Linked DNA regions of Homo sapiens. The protein of the gene in region 1 purifies or fractionates together with the protein of each later gene. This does not show direct contact. Each region holds a gene or a part of one and is shown in the gene's direction. Other genes may lie near its edges.

Region 1 (6,958 bases):
TTTTTTTTTTTTAAGGTTTCCTTTGGATCCTAAAAGAAGAAAAGAATGGGTTCGCCTGGTTAGGCGCAAAAATTTTGTGCCAGGAAAACACACTTTTCTTTGTTCAAAGCACTTTGAAGCCTCCTGTTTTGACCTAACAGGACAAACTCGACGACTTAAAATGGATGCTGTTCCAACCATTTTTGATTTTTGTACCCATATAAAGTCTATGGTAGGTAATGTTACTCTCCTTTTGTTAAAACCATTTTTAGAACTCATTCCTTTTTGTTTATGCAGTTATTAACTGAAATTCATTTATAGTGATATGCCTCAAAAAAGTTGCAGACCTTCCTCTTGTACAGTAAAGGTACAGGCTAGAATCAGAGTTTGGGTCTCCTGACTCCAATATTCTTTCCCCAATCCAAATTGTTTTACTATATTGGAATTTTACATTATTACCCATTATTATTAATAATTGCACCATTGGTAAAACTGAAAAATCATATGAGTAATGAAACCTCCAGCATCACTGTGCTCTGATTTTAAAATGACATACAAATAACATGTGCAAAGTACTTTAAGAGCACACAGCCAGAATTAAACCAAAGAATGTAAGTTCAGAGGGAGGCAGGCATGACAGAAATCTTCAGAGAGCTTGGGCATTCAGGGTGGGCTTTTGAAGCCTTGGGAGTTTAAAATAGAGGAAAGGGAACTTGGCTTTGCACAGAATAATTACAGTTGCATAATGAGAACAAAAACGAGTGGGTTGAGGCGTGAGTAGGAAATGTTAGCAAGTGATATTTAAAGGAAAGAATGAAGAAAAAATGAAGCAAAAAAAAGTAAATTAAAAAAAACGAAAGAATAAAGGTATAAGATGAATGAATTAAAACAATGTTTTATCTAGTTAGGGAAGATCTGACCAGAGAGGAAAACCTAGCTGGGAAAGACAGGGTCACCAAGAGTAAGAAAGGGTAAAATGAACACAAATAGTTTAGCTTTGAAAGGGAGGACAAACATGTTTTCCTCTGAGGAAAAACTACTGTTTCTCTTGTTTGTAACTGTTAAACTTTTAAATGTATATGAGTTATTATCTGAATGGAGACGAGGTTGTGGTAAGCTAATTACCACTGATGTTAGAAAAGCTCCAGGAGGACAAGAACTTAGTCTTTTTCACACGTGAATCCTCAGCACCTCAAACAGTGCCTGGGACATAGTATATACTCAAATACTTACTGAATTTGAAATACACCTTATTTTTGACATTTTGATAATTTATTTATTTAATAAATACAACTAAACTTTCCATTATGCCAGAATCTAAGCTCAGTGCTAGAGATACAAAGATCAAAAAAGAGTTCCTGTCAATTCCCTAGGCAGAGGGACTAACTGTAGGTTTCATGAGGATAGGAACCACATCATCTTATTTGTTCAGTGTTGTGTCCCCAGGAATGCATAGTATGTGTTTCAATAAATGTTTAATGAATTAAAGACACAGACTTATGAGGATATGATATAATCTGGAAACTCCCAGTGGCTTAGTATTGCTGGAGTATAAATCAAGATGGTAAATTGCAGAATGGGGTGAGATCCTAAATTGTATAGTATGCCATCTAAAGATTTATTTTTCCTTTAGATAATAGATAGGCAAAGAATAATTTGGCCAGAATGGAAAAGTCAAATATTCTAGAAAAATTATTCTTATGGCAGAATGTGGATTAATGAGGATCAAAATGAAGTGGAGAGATCAATAAAGAATAATATAGTCAGAACAGATATGATACGGGCCCAGTGTAAGTAGTGACATTAAGAATGACAGTGTTCAGCCTTATTGTGGAACAGAGAAAGGAAAAAAAAGAATGACGGAGAGGAGAGGATTCATGGTAGGAATATTTAGTGGGTAGAATTAATAGGACTTGATGACCATTTGAATGAAAGAGATAAAAGCAAAAAAAGTCTCCTGATTTTGGCAAATGTTCCTAGCCAGATTTTAAATCCTTGAAGATATAACCATCAAAAATTAATAGGTAAATCTGTTTAGAAGCTTGGTACTTAAGAATACATTTCTACAGATCCTTCAGTTTTCATTAAATAGGACCCTGGGTCTAAAATATTTATCAAATTGAGAAAAGGGTATTTAATTAAAAGGGGATCAAATTAATATCATAAATAATATCTACATATATTGTAAATTGACCTTAGTAAATTGCAAAGGATCTTTAAAGTCTCTATAGAGTCATAGTCAATAATTTGGAAGAAACCTTGGACGTCCATTGTCTATTTCCAAATCAGTGTTTGAATCTCTCTGGATATGGGACAAAAAGAAATAGGTGACTAGAGTTAATTCAACCAGTTAAAAAACTTAATCTTGGATTACATGAGATGGCTGCTGCTGTTTCCTATTAAAGTTTTAAAATTGACTTTTAAAAGAGCAGTTTAAATACTGTTATCCAAAACTGGACACTATGTGCTTATTTGTGATATTTCATAATTTATGTTCAACCCTCTAATTTTATTCGGCTCAGAAACTCAAGTCAAGGAATCTTTTGAAGAAAAACAACAGTTGTTCTCCAGCTGGACCATCTAATTTAAAATCAAACATTAGTAGTCAGCAAGTACTACTTGAACACAGCTATGCCTTTAGGAATCCTATGGAGGCAAAAAAGAGGATCATTAAACTGGAAAAAGAAATAGCAAGCTTAAGAAGAAAAATGAAAACTTGCCTACAAAAGGAACGCAGAGCAACTCGAAGATGGATCAAAGCCACGTGTTTGGTAAAGAATTTAGAAGCAAATAGTGTATTACCTAAAGGTACATCAGAACACATGTTACCAACTGCCTTAAGCAGTCTTCCTTTGGAAGATTTTAAGATCCTTGAACAAGATCAACAAGATAAAACACTGCTAAGTCTAAATCTAAAACAGACCAAGAGTACCTTCATTTAAATTTAGCTTGCACAGAGCTTGATGCCTATCCTTCATTCTTTTCAGAAGTAAAGATAATTATGGCACTTATGCCAAAATTCATTATTTAATAAAGTTTTACTTGAAGTAACATTACTGAATTTGTGAAGACTTGATTACAAAAGAATAAAAAACTTCATATGGAAATTTTATTTGAAAATGAGTGGAAGTGCCTTACATTAGAATTACGGACTTAAAAATTTTGCTAATAAATTGTGTGTTTGAAAGGTGTTTTTTGTTTTTGTCTTTTTAAACTACTGTTAAAAGAACAGCTTATGATAAGTAATATGTTTAACTTAGAGAAGAATTTTTTCCTGTACCAAAGTTGGCATATTGCATTCTAAATAAGATGCTAAATAAGAGTTAACCAACATTCAACATGACCTTAAAACTGCTGGGTTTTGTATTAATTAAATTATAATTGGCACTGTGATTTGAAAAATTTATAGAAAAAAAGGTACAGGGCAAGTTTTTAAATTAAAACTTTCTATATTTTGTTTTACCAGTAAAAGTGAGCTTATCATGGCCTCTCTCATAAGAATGATTTTAAAATAGGTTGTAAAATATTTTGAAAATATTTGAATGTGAAGTACCATTGAGTCATCCAAACTAGGTAAGGCCTCAAGTACTTTAAACTAGTAAAATCTAGTAGCTGATAATATTCACCTAAGTAAGTGTTGTAAAATAATTCAGAGTTCAGGACCTAGCTTAGATAAATGTATACTACTCTTTTTCTCATAATAAAAATCTTACATTTCCAACTTCAAAATTGGTGCTTCCATATTTGTTGATAACCAAAACTCCTAAGGTTTTTTGTTTTCTTTTTAACTACTTTCCAAATGCATACTATACCTCAGAAATAGTGTATCAATATAGTGGGCTTTTTTTTTCCTCTTCATAAACCCACAGTAAAATTTAATCACAGGAAACTACTTATATCTTCACACTTTGTATTGATAACTTAAAATGGCATCAGTTTATCTTAGACATCAGCTTGCTTTTTATCTCCTTTTTTAGTGAGTGAAATAGAGCAACTAGCATGCCTGTGTTCCCAGCTACTTGGGAGGCTAAGGTGGGAAGATCAATTGAACCTAGGAGGTTGAGGCTATAGTGAGCTGTGATTGCACGACTGCACTCCAGCCTGGGCAATGGAGTGAGACTCCTGTCTCTAAAACAGCAACAACAAAAATAAAGCAACCATAGTGCATAAGGGAAATTAAATGTTCCCTATAGAAATATGTGTATGTCTGTGATAGTGGTATGCAAATGCTAATTATTTTATAAAATAAAAGTTCAGAACTATTCTTATCATTGCCACTTGAACAATTAAAGGGTTTGCTTTATTTCACTAATGTTTAATAGGAACCCTTTGCTTCAAACAGCTTTGTTGAAATCATGTAAAAATTTGTTAATAGAGAATCAAGTTATTTAACTCAACTTATTTAATTCAAGCTTGTGATACTAACATACAAAGGTAGCATAAACCAAGTCATAAATTGCTGTAATCTTTCCTGTAAAGTAATAGCTACTTCATGATTTTTTTAAAAATTTCATTTTTTTGCTATTTAGGATTGCATTTGCTTGGCTCCTAGTAACAATTCTTTTACAGTATTAGCACTCTCTTTACTAAGGAATGCCTCCCAAGGAAATGCAAAGGTAGGAAAAGTCTCTTAGAATGCCCATGAGGTATTTAAAACAGATATTTATGAAAATCTTTTTGTGAATGTTATAAATCTTGCTAGTTATTTTATCTTTATCTTAAGTATTAGATGTAGTTCCTTGGAATTGTCATTACATATTTATTTTTTTCTAGTATGGTTTCAAATAACTTTTTGCCAACATATAATCATCATCAAACATTCACTGACCATATCTATTTTATAACTCAAAATAAGTTGGACAAATAATCATTTTAATAAAAACTATTTTTTCCAAGTATAACCACTGTCATGTGGTTCACCCTTCACCCCAGATACAAAACACTTATTTGTGTAGCCCAGTTCCCATCTACAGTAATACCTTGAAACCTTAATAAATTTTAAAAATCATAAAAATAAAATATTGTAAAATACAACAAATTTTGGACAAGGTTACTTCATCTTCATTCATTATTACCTGACAGTATTAAACTACTACTCAATAATTTTAGAGTAAACTTTTCTGTGTTTTCTCCGTGATTTTCATTGTGCTGTCCTGACAACATGCTCCAAACTCTTTGCATCAAATTGTTTTATTAACATACATTTGTCTACCTTAAAACTAGCTTTATTCACAGAGAAAAACCTAAAAGGAGTCTATTAAAATGCTGCTTTCAGTTTGATAGTTTTTTTTTTAATCACTCTGACCATAAACTAACTGAAATTATAATGGATTTTTTTTCCTCTCCCGGTCACAACACAGATCTTCTGTTCATTTGTTCTCTGTCTACTGGGCACCAACCTCTACAAAGAACCAGCCAAAGGCTAGGTACTTGATATAAAAAGGAATATTACATTATTTTCTGCCCTCAAGTTGCTCTATCTCCTGAAAGAAACAAGTAATATTTATAATACAATATGATAAATGCTACAAAAGAAATAGCTGTAAAGTCCTTTGGTAAATGCTGTTGAATTGGAATTCAGTAAGAACTATAAACTGTAGACCTTTTTATAATCAAATGCTTTTGTCTTGAAACAAAACAGATTCCTCCTTATATTGACTTAGCAAAGGAGGTACAAGGACATTGGCATTTGACCTGAATTATGGTGTTTTATTGAATGAGCTATAAGACAACATTTTTACCCTTTAAAATGAACACTGAACAAATGTGTTAATGGTATCTTTGTTAAAAGGAAAACATAGCTATAAATAAAATACTACATCGAAATCCAGCACTGGAGTTCATTTGAAATTTGATATTTTGTGTAAAATAACAAACCTATTAACACAGATTTTTAAAATAACTCAGAATCGTATAAAGCACTTTGGTACTTATTTGTTCTCTTTTCCCTTACATTCTGTGTGGTAGGTGGTATTATCTCTGATTTACACATGAAGACATCCTTGTTAATGCAATTTATTTATTCATTCGGGCATTTACTGTGTGCCAACTTGCAAAAGGAATAGAAATGTCTGTGATCTAGATAGTTCTAGATTGAACATAGATTTTCTGCCAACAAATCCTCTCTGCTGTTCACATTATCCTTTGTTTAACGTATGAACCAGGTTACTAAAATAGGATAAATCATGTGTCTTAAAATATGAAAATAGTAAAGTCTTTGAGGTCACTTGATCTTCTCTAAGTAGACTTTATAATATTGTGTTTTATCTCATTTCTCAATATTAGAATACGGGTAGATTTTAATTTTGCTATAATATAGGAAATGGTTCATCTTTGTACCAAAATATTGCATTCTTCTGATATTTAGACAGTTGGAAACTTTCTAAAATTGAGGATTTTGTAGTGTATACTAAATAATTGCATATTCAAAAAAATGTATTCTGAGTATGGTGATATTAAACATTTTTCCCCAAGGAAATTACTGTCATGCCTGTTATTTCTAAAAAATGTACATAAATATTTCTGTGAAAGTTCTTTTACATTGACCCCCTGAAAGACTTCTGTGAAGTCCTTCTCCCTAAACTGAAGCAAATGGTAGAACAAAGATAATGTAAAGCCTTGAAGAGAAATTATTTTCATTTTTGTTGCTCACATTATATCTAAATGTACATTATAGTTTATTTGCACTGTTTCAGATAATAGGCAATCTAGACAAGATATATGAACGGCTATGAAAATGGTAACAGTCTATCTCTATCCTGACCATAATTTGAGGCTCACACAAAAATGTATTTGCAGGCTAGGTACAGGAGTTCATGCCTGTAATCCCAGCATGTTGTGGGGCTAAGGCGGGTGGATCACTTAAGGCCAGGAGTTTAAGACCAGCCTGGGCAACTTAGCGAGACACCCATCTCTACAAAAATAATGAAATAAAAATTAGCCAGGCACAGAGGCATGTGGCTGTAGTACCCTAGCTACT
Region 2 (7,114 bases), on another chromosome or scaffold:
GTGACACTGTGCAACCAGCACATTGAGAACAGCCCTTTCAAGGTGGTGGTCAAGTCAGGCCGCAGCTACGTGGGCATTGGGCTCCCGGGCCTGAGCTTCGGCAGTGAGGGTGACAGCGATGGCAAGCTCTGCCGCCCTTGGGGTGTGAGTGTAGACAAGGAGGGCTACATCATTGTCGCCGACCGCAGCAACAACCGCATCCAGGTGTTCAAGCCCTGCGGCGCCTTCCACCACAAATTCGGCACCCTGGGCTCCCGGCCTGGGCAGTTCGACCGACCAGCCGGCGTGGCCTGTGACGCCTCACGCAGGATCGTGGTGGCTGACAAGGACAATCATCGCATCCAGATCTTCACGTTCGAGGGCCAGTTCCTCCTCAAGTTTGGTGAGAAAGGAACCAAGAATGGGCAGTTCAACTACCCTTGGGATGTGGCGGTGAATTCTGAGGGCAAGATCCTGGTCTCAGACACGAGGAACCACCGGATCCAGCTGTTTGGGCCTGATGGTGTCTTCCTAAACAAGTATGGCTTCGAGGGGGCTCTCTGGAAGCACTTTGACTCCCCACGGGGTGTGGCCTTCAACCATGAGGGCCACTTGGTGGTCACTGACTTCAACAACCACCGGCTCCTGGTTATTCACCCCGACTGCCAGTCGGCACGCTTTCTGGGCTCGGAGGGCACAGGCAATGGGCAGTTCCTGCGCCCACAAGGGGTAGCTGTGGACCAGGAAGGGCGCATCATTGTGGCGGATTCCAGGAACCATCGGGTACAGATGTTTGAATCCAACGGCAGCTTCCTGTGCAAGTTTGGTGCTCAAGGCAGCGGCTTTGGGCAGATGGACCGCCCTTCCGGCATCGCCATCACCCCCGACGGAATGATCGTTGTGGTGGACTTTGGCAACAATCGAATCCTCGTCTTCTAATTGCATTTCCTAGGTTTCTGTGTTTGGGGTGTGTGTGCGTGTCTCTCTCTCTCTCTCTCTCTTTCTCTTTCTCTCTCTTTTTGAATTTCAAAGAAGAAACAGTCTCAGGGAAATTTCTTTTTTCTTTTTTTTTTTTAAAGAGAACAAGAAAAGTACAACATTGCTTAAGTCCTACCTCATCTTTATTTTTTTACAGATGAATGTACTTATCTTTTCTGCAGGGATTGAGCCTGTGAAGTGATAATTTCTATCTACCTCATAAATCTTTACATTTCCTTCTGCAACAGGCCCTCTTCCCCTCCTCAGTGGAGTTTGCATTTCCCTCTTCCCCTGCGTGGGGCATGATATGCACAAGCCTGGCATCTGTATGGCTGGGAGGGCACTGGATGTGTGTGGTGGGGTGTATTCTGTAGATTGAGCCAAGGAAACACAAAAAAAAACTACTAAGTAAAAAAACAAAAAACTATAAAACATGGAAAAAATAGGATTTGAAATGCATAATTATAGAATACCTGTGTTCTTGAGAATACTGTTTATATGGGGTTTAGATTATGTTGTGTTGTTTTGATCTTTTTGGAAAATCTTCTCTTTTTAAATGCTGCAACAGAGAAATTTCCTCTGTTCTCTGTTTATACCTCAGTGTGTTTAACATCCTCTTCTGCATCGTTTCTTGATCTTAGACGTTGTGGCTGTGGCTTGCTAGCCAAGAAAAGCAGACCCTTCATATTTTAGGGTATATAATCTTTGTTTCTTTTAAGGGAGGGTGTGTGCATGTTTGTTTCAAAGCCATCTTGCACCCAAGTAGTAAAGCTGAAAATGACACACTGCCTCCCAAAGAACCTCTCCTTTTCACACTTTGGTTTCTTAAAAAAGTATATAGATGGTAGCTCAGGATTTTTGATTAAACATATTCTCAAAAGTTATGCTTTCTTATTTTGCTGTTAGGTTATAAAGGGTTAAATGGAAGGAAAAAGGAAATTAACCTCGTTCTCAGAGAGAGGGTTTTCAGGCATGGGCTGACGTGGACATGAATGTGGGTGGACATGCGTGTGCTGAGGGAGTCAGGGAGCACATTAAAGAACAAGGCACCCCCAAACTATAGGAACTCCACAGAAAGGGCAGGGTCTGCCCTGACCCGCGAGTGCATGTTGTTCTGTAGTGCTAGGGGTTTCTTTTCCTAAGAAGAGTAGGCAAAGGAAAGAACTTTTATTTTACAAGCACAATTTTTTCCTGCTTTGAAAGTTCAGGGAAATAGAAGGTTTGAAAGTCAAATTAATACCAACAGCCCAGTCCCACACCCTCTGCTTGGGTCACTTTTTATAGGATTGTTTGCACCCAGGCCATGCTTTAGGACCTCATGGTTAACATGAATCCCCCCGCCCCCTCTCCCCCCAAGGCCTTTGACCATAAAGGATCTAGAAACCAAATTGTCCCAACCTGAAATGTAGGATGTAATGTCTTTTCTTAAACCTGTAACTCGGTACCAAAGAATGAAAATTTAAGGCTCCCACTGCAGAACTGTGGGGTAGAATCTGTGTCACTTTACAGGATTGGTTGGTTGTAAGCTGGACTTGGGTACAAAACTTGTGCTTCTGGGCATTGTCTGTCTTTCAAGTGCAAAGCAGATGTAGCTGATACCCTGCTTGTCAGAACCCAGTGGGTTCCTGCAATGCCCCAAATACTGAAATAAGAACCAAATTCTGGAGGAGCCCTCCTCAGGGAAAAGAGGGACTCTCAAACAAACGTCAGTGACTTACAAGGGAGACCTCTTGTTTAAAGACTTATGGATCAACTTCTGTTCCTCTGTTTAAGAGAAATTTCTATTGCAAAATGGGTATCGTTTTAAATGAGCAGAACAGATTAACAAATGGAGCAATTTGTTTCTGTTATCCCAATAGAAAAGGAGATGATGGGGACAGTGTGACAAGTCAATCAAGTTGCTTTTCCCGTACACCTCTTTTGGACGTTTAATTTACTACTACTACAAGCTACTCTGTCTCTTCCCATTGCTTTAATTCTAGGGTTTCTGAGTGACCAAAATGGGAAGGAAAAAAAAAACCTCATCTCACAGAGGAGAACTGCATGCAATAAAAGATTCAAAAGTTGGAAAGTAGCTTCAAACTGCTGCTGGCTCCCAGCTGCTGTTACAGGGTGGGAAGGTGTTAGGAAATGTTGTTTGTTAGAAGCTCCTTTTACTGTAGAATTTAATAGTGAATCCTTCCCCAATGCCTATTCAGTTGCCTTTTGGCCGTTAAGCTCTAAGTTCTTTGGTAAAGAGTTAATATAATTAAACATTTTTACTGTTTTCTATTTTGGAGTAACTTGGTGCTGATCTTCCTTCCCTTTCCCCAGCTGCCCAACAAGCCACCCTTTAAACACCAAAGACAACTGGTTTTAAATGCTTGAAAAAAATTTTATTGAGGAGATGGATCTTGATTAAAATCTTTTCATCATCATTTTCATTCTGCTCTTTTCTTTCTAATTTCCCCAGATGTAGGAAAATTTTGGGACCTGAATGAGAAATGTTCTTGGTGCATAACAGTAACTAGAGCTCCTTATTTGACATTTTACTATGGATGTGATCGAAAAGCCAAGATTTTCGCTCCATGGCTGAAATTATCAGGTCTTAATTTACAGACTTGTAAATTTGCAGGCTTAGAGCAACTAGAACTATCCCCTGAAATAGGTGTGTAGGTCAGAGATACTACCTCTTTGTCCTCAGTGGTGGTATATCTATCTCCTTACCTTTCTGTACCCAAAATGGTGCATGACTGGTATTTGAGAAACATGGTCACATTTGGAAAGCTTTTGTTTTTAAAACATTGGCGGTTTTTCCTGCCCGTGGTTGACTCCTGACCCATAGGGATTGGTGCGAAGCACTTTGGAGAGTGTTTATTGTATGATGTGAAATGTTCTAAATCAAAGAAAGATGATAAAAGCCAACATTTGGCAGTCCCTAGTGTGAAACTGTGAAAAGTACCTGTGTTTAAATGCATAATCTCCTGCCCGGGTAATGCCAGGTAGCCAGGAGTTGGGTCAAAGAAGGGAGTCGTCATCCTGATGGAAAAAATAAGGTCCTGGGTATTATGAGGTAGGAGAATAAAAAGGTTTCTGGGGAGTAAGTATGACAATTACTAGTCCCCATGGAGGTCTGATCTGGTCAGGTGGCAAGGGTTGGGTGGGGTATGATGTAAGCTCAGTTTATGTGTGGAGATGCCCATTGGGTTTGGATATATAGGTTTGAGTATTGAGATGTTTAAAGGACATCTAACCCATAGGTAAAAACTACTTTTGCTTGACACTGACTTAACATTTCAAAAGTGTTATTTTTGGTCCCAAGATCTAATGCTGTCTCAGAACATGTGCCCTGTTGTGGCTGCAAGTGGCACTCAAGTTGACTAGAGCACAGTGACCTGGGTTGTACCCCAAGTGCACTAACTCCTCAATGCCCTTTTAAGTCTAACTTATTTGGGAAACACATAACAAAGGGTACCATAAACCGAATCCAAATTACGTGTTGGGCCAAAAATGTTGCCAGAACTGAGGCACTTTGTGATGGAGTTGCAAGAGATAGCTTGAGATCGGCTCAGTCTGATTTATTCTAGTTAAGCCAAAGCTTAATTATTTGAGGAGGAAAGTCTTTTAGGCTTGAAGCAGCAAAATACTGTTTATATATGTGTTACCTTCCTCGTTGGAAGATTCTACGATTGCTCTGTTCTGGTAGGTGGTGAAAGATATGCCAAAGTTTTAGGCTTGTTTTTCTGATCTTATTTTTTTAATCCAGTGGTGCCAAAAAGTATTTAGGGTATGTTTAAGGTATATTTAAAACATCACTCTGAATGAGTTTCCAACAGTCTGGGGCTGTATAAAAGTCACACTCTTGTACTTGCAGGTGATGGTGTCACAGGGCCAGGGCCTCCAGAGCTCTACGGCTTTCTCTGGTTTTCTATAGGGCCAAGGGCACAGGACGCAGCATTCCAGACCACACTGACTGCTTTTGCTGAGTTTCTACCTCACTTGTGGCAAGTCATCTACCTCATGTTAGCATCTGACAGGTCTCAAAAAGAATAGTATTAATCCAGTGGGCAGTGGGTGGGAGTGGGAAGCTACCTCTAAAAGAAATGTTACCATAAATCTACAACTGATTTCTCCCAGGAGAAATGTTCTACTTACCTTGAAAGAGAAATGTCAGGCAAATGTAGTCATAAATCCAAGTAGTTCTTAGCAATCTGGCTTTTCCCCCTCAAAAAGAATTATGCATACCATTACTGTTGTTCAGTATTATGAAACTACTGGTTAATCTGACCTATTGGAGGACTTAACTACAAATAAAGACCTTTAGGTCTCTTTCTCTTCAAGAGAAAAATATTTTATCTGTATTTCGAATGTCTGCAAATAATACCCTTTAGGAGCAATTCTAAAGGTCTAGATCTTGGAAACATCAAATATTTGAAGGGAATGAGAATCCTCTTGACTTCATGATTGTATTTGTAGCTCTCTGGACCCGGCAGGACGTTCATCACCATGATGTTGCAACAATCACTGTTTTGACTGAGCAGTGACTGTTGAAGTGTGTATTGCTCTTTTGTTTTGTTTTTATTTTTTTCTACCAAAGGTAACATGTTGACGGGTTTTTTTTTTCCTTGTTTATTAAATACTTGATAAAGTTGAGAAGCACATTACCAGGATATACTGTATTGACCCTCCCACCTCTCTTCTGCCCTAATTTTTGGTTGTTTGGAAGAGAGGAGGGTCCTAAGACCACTGTCATTATCATGAGGGGCTTATAAATGTCATGGTGAAGAAATACCTCAATGATGTCTATTTTTAAAACTGATCTTACGGGTTAACAAGCCAGCCTGGTGGGATATTTTCCATCATCATTTAACCAATAATGGTTCTAAAAGTTTTGTGTATCCACATGGTCTTAGACCTCCTTTTAATGATTGTATTAACTTACAAGCTCAGGTAGTATTTTTCTTAAGACTCTATCTCAGAGCACACTGACTGAATGTTGATGTGTGTAGCAAAGTGTTTACTTTCTTTAAATAACCAGCTCTGTAACTCTGTAAGTTCTTTGTGTTTCTAGCAGTCTGTGTAGTTGTCTTTCTTCAGAGGAAGATTTTTCACATTTCTGGGGTTTTCTTGCTTTTAGGGTGGTAAGATTCCTTTCTTTTTTTCCCTTTTCTCCTAAAATCGATGCAGGTAAGGGTGGGTGGGTAAGGGGTGTTGTTTTTTAACTAGCATGTTAGTTATACTTGGGTGGGTGGGAGGGTTGTTAAACTGAATCTTGCTTAATACTGTCCATTAGCTCTCATGCCGGGTCAGCAAAATGCTTTAATTTTTAACTGCAGAACATGTGACTCGGTTGAGTCTTTTTGTCTTTTTTTTTTTTAAATAAACAATTGGGGGAATTAATGTGGGCAAGTTGCCTTATGTTAGAATGACTAAGTTAAACCTCTTAATTTGTATTTGTCCAAGGCAGACATGATATAAGGAATATGCACTACCGTAGTAACTCCCCTGGCCGCAGAAACCACACTGCAAGCCTGTCCGGGGTGGGGTGCTGACTGCCATTTGCCACTTTTAAATGGGCACTGCCGTGGTAATGTGAATCCCATCAATGCAGTAGATGGGTGGGGAAATGAAGATTTCCCCCCAAACCTTTAGGCAAAAGTGAGTTTTTGTTTGGTTGATTTTGGGTTTTTTTCCCCCCTCCTCTTTTGGCTTTCACATTTTAAATCTTAAATGTTACTATTGCAGGCCGCAGGCATGACAGGCAATGAGCAGGTGAAGAACCAATGGAAAAGTGTTCAAAAACTCCTGTGTTAGCTAACAGGCTTCTGAATGTATCACTGTGGTCCACAGAGAAGGCTGGAGGAGGTAGCAAGGAGATGCTGTATCAGCTACTACAGCCTTAAAACAAAGTTGGTGTCTCTTTGGACTTTAAAATTGTTCCTATGCAGCTTATTTTATTTTTGTTTAATCAAATAAACGAGGGTTTTTCCATGGCTACAGTGTGTCTGTGTGATCCTTTAATCCATAGTAAATAAGGGTATGTGCACTGTACTGGATGGAAAGGGAGTCCCTGAGGTAGACAGTCCAGGAGCTGTACTGTGACTGGTGGGCCAGATTGGGCCCATGCGGTGCCTTCAAAAAGAAAAAGGTGATGGGAGCATTTTTAAATAGAGTAAAT
Region 3 (7,114 bases), on another chromosome or scaffold:
GTTGGCCAGGCCAGAGTGTTGGTGCCATCACTACTCACTGCAGCCTTAACCTCCCAGGCTCAAGTGATTTTCCAACCTCAGCCTCCCAAGTAGCTGGGACTTCAGGTGCACACCACCACACCCAGCTAATGTTTGTAGTTTTTTGTAGAGATGAGGTCTCACTATGTTGCCCAGGCTGGTCTTGAACTCCTGGGGTCAAGTGATCCTCCCGCCTCAGCTTCCCAAAGTGCTGGGAGTACAGGTGTGAGCCACTGCGCCTGGCCACATACATTATTTCTAATCCTCACAAACAGCCCTGCCAAGAGGGTGCAGCTATCCCCAATTTACAGATAAAGAAATCCCAGAGAGAGAGGAAATGGTGTTGCCCAAACCACATGGGAACCACGTGAGAGAGCCTGTGAGCATTGGGCCTTGGCATCTTTGAAGCCACCTCCTCTTGCCAAGCTGCTTCTCAGCTGGCACTGCTTTTAGGTTCTGAAGCATTGCAGAGCTCAGCGTTGGGGAGTTATCGGGCCTCATCATTTTGGTTTCCTGATTAGATTCTTCCTTCATGCCAATTTCTCAGTCAGAACTTATATTTTAATTTAAAAATGATGAAGTTATCAGTCTGGTTTTTAAAAACTTACTTTGGTTAAATTGGAAACTCTTAGTAGTGTCTTACAGCAAAAGGTGGAGATTTCCTGTGGAACCAAGAATTCTCAGTAGCAAGAAACTCAGCTGGTCGGTGCCTGTTATGTATACACCAGTTCCCTTAGTACAGCCACTTCATGAGGAAGATATTAATTTGGCCAGTCTCATAGCTGGTAACTGTTAGAGCTCAGATTCTAATGCAGATATTTCTGGTTATGGTTGTCAGAAAAACTTGTGGTACCTACTGTGTGTTAGGTACTTTCATATTATGTTTTTAAATTCTCATAGTAACTCTCCAAATAAGTGGGATTTTTTTTCTATTTCTTTTTTCTTTTTTTCATGTCAGTGCCCTTAATCAAAAAAGTGCTATTTTTTATTTTCATTTTACAGATGAGGAAACTGAGACTGAGAATGTTTCTTGGGTCATAGATTCCCATTGTCAGCTTACAGCATTCTTAGTGTCTCAGTAATTCTGTTTTTACAGCACCGCTATGCCAAAAAGTACCTAATAGTCTCATTTATTAAGTAGTTATGTCCAAACCATTTAATATATATTTATGTCCTTACAATTTATTAGCCATTTGAGAAGATAATACACACAAATTGAAAGAAAAAATATTTTTATTTCATTCTTAAATATCATAGTTACTTCCTAATGGTATGTGTGCCTTTTGGTACTGCTCAAATCCTTAAACCTTAGGATCAGATTGAACGCTACGACCATCATTCTGATTTCACATCGATTTTCACAGTTATTTTTGTCAGAGCAGCTATCCAAACGCAGCTCCACAAAGATATGATGTCACCAGAAGAAATGTAACTTGAGCTCCTGGTTAATGCAGTGTTCAACAGATGTCACATTTCACTGTGTTCTCCTTGAAAATTTAACATATCCTGTGGTGAATTAAATATGACACCCCAGTTGCCACAGCGCAAAGTTGGAGAACTGCAGATTTGAGTCAACCTTAGGTGTGTCTAATGCCAGATCTGTGTTTTATTTTCCTTTTTTAAAATTTGATATTTCTACAAAATTAATTTTAATTCAGTGTAAGGTTTTTAAATGCCACAACAGTGGACAGAGTTCAGATCTAAGTTACCCCTGTTTGTTCTCTTGCTTAATTCTGTGTCTTCCCTATAGCAGGTGCCTAATAAGTATTTATTGAAAGGAAGAAAAACTCCCCCCAACTTGAAAACAGGAGCTTACAAAATTGAATAAAGGACAAGAGGCATTAGATCCACAGAAAGGCCATGGCTCTAGTGACCTACTGTCTTTTGGCTTCTTTCAGTTAAGTGTCTTGTTTTAAACAAGAACCATGGCCCTTGCAATGCTAATGTATAAGTTGGTGTGGCTTAAATCTTTTAAAATATAATAGCAGTACTTGGAACTTACATAATTTGAGTGGGAAATTTTATTCGCAAATCCTTGATTTTGATAGAGATGCTTACTCCTTGGCTTTTCACCTTCATGTTTTGATTTTCGTTAATATGAAACCATTTTTCTTAAAGTGAAACATACCACAGGTTGCATTTAAGCCCTGACTATTATGCTGAATTTCTTGAAACAAGGCTTCAAGCTCGCCCAGGGAGCATACCTTACATTTAGCACATGTAAGACCTTGCATTTATAGATCTTTTAACCTAAGATGGTCATACTTGGTTGACCTCCTGAAACCCTGTAGGCTGCACTTAGCTTGATGAGGAAGACGTGCACAGAAAACTGAAATGATACTGAATATTGCTTGATTAGGTACAACTCTTCCTCTTTAAGTATAAAACCAATATCTAAACAGATCTGTGAATGGCGGTAAGGTGACGGAAGTGTTAGTTCCAAGATAAACACTTCCCTTGTCTTTTCCAAGTACAGAAATTCTTTGTCATTTCAAAAACACAGATAGGTAGCAAAGGTTGCTGCTGATTAATAATCATTGTTTACATGCCTGCATTTTAAGGATCATGGGCACCATAAATAAAAACACACCACTGAGACTCGCTCCTCTCTATGCACCTTTATCCAGGGGGCAGTGATAATGGTGAGATATTTAAGTCTCACTACCGAAGCAACACTGAGGACAGCCATGAAAGATAGTCTGTGCAGTAGATGTGTCCCCTCTGAAACTCCCAAATAGCAGAGCATGCAGCGGGGAAAGAATTGTGGGTAGTAATTTGGGTGTTAAAATATTAACACATTTTTGCATATTTAATGTGGTTTCTGTTTTAAGTAGTAGGCAGATTATGGCATGCAAGCAGATAAGTTTATGATTTCAAATTAAATTTTAAGCATTAAAAAAATCCAGAAGGAACTACTTTGTGATAAATACATTCAGTTAATCAAGAATTGCTTTCTTCTCTGCTCATATATTAACTAATTTATAGCCTAATTTCATGATTGTAACTTGTGAATTAAGCTTCATGGTGAGTTTTAATCTTAAAAGTTCAAAACTCTCATTCATCTAGTTCACATTTGGGTACTATGGGCTAGACATATATAATCTCTGGACTCAAAATGGGAAATCTTGGAAGTCTTCACCGAGGAGGTAACCTTAATACCTGGGCATTAAGAGTGTGAGAGCCATTGTTTCAATCTGTCACTTTACTTGGTTCTGGTCTCTTGAGAGCAGAGGCAGACGTTTTTACCCTTAACTGCCTTTTCCTTTTCTAACTTCTGCTTCTCTCTAACTCAGATCATAGTACTCGTGAAAAATTTGTCCTGGGGAAGGAAGCAAGACCCCTTAACATTTTTCTCATTTCTCCTATTTCCCCATAGGCAAAGATGCCTTTTGATGCCAACAAACTGTATTGCAGTGAAGTGCTGGCCATATTGCTCCAGGACAATGATGGTGAGGCGCCCTCTCAGTATTGATATTCTGTTAGGATAGGAGCCAGGCTTGTTTCAGATCATGACAGCAAGCTCTCTTGCCTTTGGCATCCCCTTGCTCTCCCTCTCACTCCCTGTGCTGCTTTTGTACTCTGTCAAGCTGTATTGATTTTGTTTGCTGATGTATCAGTGTTAGACGGCTGTAAAATCTGACAGTTAGGTTCATTTTTTTTCTTCCTCTATTTTTTTCCCCTTTAGAAAACAGGGAATTGCTTGGGGAGCTGGATGGAATCGATGTGCTTCTTCAGCAGTTATCCGTGAGTAATTCTTATGCTTCCTGTCTGCTGTAAGATACATGGTCTGCTTTGAATGGGAGGTGGAGCTGGAAACTGTGGGAAGGAATAAGCCATGTGCTGCAAGCCATATGGAGCATGTTGGCAGGTTTGAGGGTTATACGGAGGGACATGGTTTGCCTCCTTTTCTTAGTCATTTGCTCTTTATGACCAGACATCACTGTGTATCAGTTCTGAACTTTCTTCATCTTCTGATATGATATTGTCAACTCAAAAAAGATGTGCCTCATGCTTAAGTGTGTATGTTCTGGGCCAAGCATACCAAATTATTTTCATTTGACCCACTGCCAAGATTATTCACCAACCTTCCTTTCAATCTGCTGTGAAAATGGAGTATGTTCATTTAGGATCTGAATAAGCTCAAGGAGTACAAGTTCCACTGCAGTGGGGTGGGGGTCAAGGGGAGGATAGGGGAGGATGTGGTGCTGAAGGCTGGAGTGAGAACTTGGAAACTGCCATTTTCTCACTGTAAGAAATGTAAATCCAGTTGAAATGTTATTCTGCTGGCATTCTGAAAATACTGTTAAGATTTCCTCTTACAAGTTTTAGCTGTGTTATTCTAAAAACAGGACTGAAAATAGATCATTTGGATAAAATCTTAAGAGTGTTGGGAGAGTCTGAGATGTCAGTTTGCATACAGCTTCCATCTTGGTGCCAGCAGCCTGAGTGTCTTGGCCTCCACCCCAAAAATAGAGCTTTGAAATGTGAATCTGTTTCCAGTTCTGGGAAGGTGCTTAGTCCTTTTCCTGTGAGATTATTGATCTTCTTGTAGTAGACTGTATGGGTATGCATATACAGTTTAAAGGCTTCTCTTAACATGCCTTACATCTCTGGCAAAAAGAAAACTAATGCTGTAAGCCCTTCCCATGAATTAAAGCCCCAGCTCCCCTGTGAGGGAATTCAGTAGCCTTGGTTGTCAGGAAATGCTTCCTTATATTGAGCCACGATTCAGCCCTCTGGATTGTGGTTGCTTTTAGAAGGGAAAGAAATGAGATATGGTTGGGTTGGGCAAGTGGAGGGCTTTGAGGGGAGTTGGCAAAGTTGTTTCTCATCCTGGATAATGATTTCAGGGGTGTTCACTTCATTTAGTTTTATATGTCCTTTATGGAGTTTTTCTGTATCTGTGTTATATTTCACGATAAAAAGATTTTGTTTTTTATTGGGTTTTGGTTTTTAAAAAAATCTGCTTGCCTGGAACTGTCAATTACTGATGGACCCAGTGGTCAGTAGAGTGTTTTGGCTTTTTTTTTTGCATGTATTTAATATATGTGAATCATTTAGTTTCTCTAAAATGGAAACTGATGAGAATTTTGTTTGGTGAGCTTCTGTTTCCTCAGTCGTAGAGTTATGACCCACAGGTTTTAGGAATTGTTGGATGGAGGCTCATGAAAAGACATTCTCTTATAGCTCTGTGCTTTGTGCTGTTTTTGCTTGACAGGTGTTTAAAAGACACAATCCCAGCACGGCTGAGGAGCAGGAGATGATGGAGAATCTGTTTGATTCCCTCTGCTCCTGTCTAATGCTTAGTTCCAATCGTGAGCGCTTCCTGAAGGGCGAGGGTCTTCAGCTGATGAATCTCATGCTCAGGTATGTTTCGAATGCCCTAGTTCTCCCACCTTTTTTGCCTGACTTTTCACTGTTAGCCTGAATTCAAGAGCATGTAGCTATGATCATTTATTCTGTTGGGTTTCCTAGACTTTACCCTGAAGAGTAAAGTCTTCAGGCATGGGGGGATGTGTTTGTATAGGTATGTGGTCTTTCCTAAAGTTAGAGTAGATGAATAAAAAGTATATTGTGTTCTGTTTGTGCCCTACTGTGGTGGTTGCTAATACGTCCACTCCATTGAAGGACATTGGTGTTTTTCCTCTCCTTCCCATAGTGTGTTAGTTTTGGGGAAATCTAGCCATTACTTCTAAACTTGGACTAATTTTCTGTATATATCACATAGACCTATCTATGCCATATGTTTGTATTTTTATTGAAAGCAGCGTATCATTCATATTTTTCACTCCTCATTCAGTAATGAGTTGTACATGTGCTGTATGCCTAGCTTAGGAAATATGAAAACGTGCAAGACAGTTCTAGAAACTTTTATTTATAGTACTTTCCTTGTGTGTCTTATTATTTATACGCTAATTCCTGAAAGTGGATCTTATATTAGTTTCACAGTTATTTTATAGAATCCTAAAGTTAGAAGCAAAAAGGGGAGAGGAAGCTTATGTTGATAACTCTTGAGACCCTGTCTAGGAAGGGGAGTAGAGAAGTGTGTGGGGGAAGGCTGAGGGGATAACCAGACTGTGGTATAGGGTCAAGGGACTTAAAAAAAAAAATCGAGCATGTTTATGTGGTTGGAAGATTCTAGTCATTATGAATTGTGCCCTACAGAGGAGCAAGTTGAGATTTAAAAAAAAAAAAAACAAGAAAAAAAGAAATGGAGCCAGAGTCTGCTGTCTTAAAACTTCAAGTATACTGAAAGTTCTGTTGAACTAAGATATTTCTTTGGAAAGGTTTTTCATAAATGTGATATATATTTGTTAAATAGAATTTAGAATACTAACATATAAAACTGCTATTAAAACATTGACAAGGTACTATGTTAAGTACTGGGCATACACAGAAATACCTAAGACAGAATTTCTGTCTCCACAAAGTTAGGAAAACAGTTCTGTGAGCTAAACACAGCCTGTCTTTGGGTGTATATTTTCTTCTAGTCTTTTTTTCTATAATTTTTAACAACTTTTTAAGCCTGCCACACATAGGATTTTCTGTATTGCTACATTTCAGACATAAGATGCTGTTTCCCATGCTGTGAATAATCTTCATGAGAGTTTTCAGTAACTGCATCATGGCCTCTAAGGGACTGTAGCTTACTTAGTATTCTTCTGTTGTTGGCATTGAGGATATTTCCAATGTTTTGCCGTTATAACAAATTCTACAGTGACCATTTTTGTGTTTAAAATGATGTTAGGATTATCCAGGTACAGTAAGTCCTCACTTAACATCATCAGTAACATTCTTGGAAACCATAACTTTAAGCGAAATGATGTATAATGAAACCAGTTTTTCTGATCATTGTTATAACGGTGTTATTTGAGGATCTGACCTCCTATATCCCGTTTTACTTAAAGTTGCCATTTCCAAGTCTATCTATGATGTTAAGTGATGACTTACTGTGTATATTTCTAAAATATATTATCTTTAAAAGGCTTCTGGGGGGCTGGAGGCACAGTAGACCTCTTCATTTGTCCAGTGTGTACCAGACCTTGCATTGACCAAAAGTCTTCCTTTGAGGAATTGCTTTTAAAAACAATTTTTA

The links.
Region 2: the proteins of THAP2 (region 1) and TRIM71 purify together in Homo sapiens (affinity purification with mass spectrometry; 3 studies listed by BioGRID and IntAct, with this or other methods). This does not show direct contact.
Region 3: the proteins of THAP2 (region 1) and CTNNBL1 purify together in Homo sapiens (affinity purification with mass spectrometry; 3 studies listed by BioGRID and IntAct, with this or other methods). This does not show direct contact.

What each region holds. Positions count from the first base shown.
Region 1 is NC_000012.12:71,674,188-71,681,145, forward strand, and holds the end of THAP2 (THAP domain-containing protein 2), read left to right. Parts: intron 1-15; coding exon 16-211; intron 212-2,501; coding exon 2,502-2,921; 3' UTR 2,922-6,457; downstream 6,458-6,958.
Region 2 is NC_000003.12:32,890,894-32,898,007, forward strand, and holds the end of TRIM71 (E3 ubiquitin-protein ligase TRIM71), read left to right. Parts: coding exon 1-918; 3' UTR 919-6,931; downstream 6,932-7,114.
Region 3 is NC_000020.11:37,773,951-37,781,064, forward strand, and holds part of CTNNBL1 (beta-catenin-like protein 1), read left to right. Parts: intron 1-3,394; coding exon 3,395-3,467; intron 3,468-3,703; coding exon 3,704-3,762; intron 3,763-5,236; coding exon 5,237-5,385; intron 5,386-7,114. UniProt on the Homo sapiens protein: Component of the PRP19-CDC5L complex that forms an integral part of the spliceosome and is required for activating pre-mRNA splicing.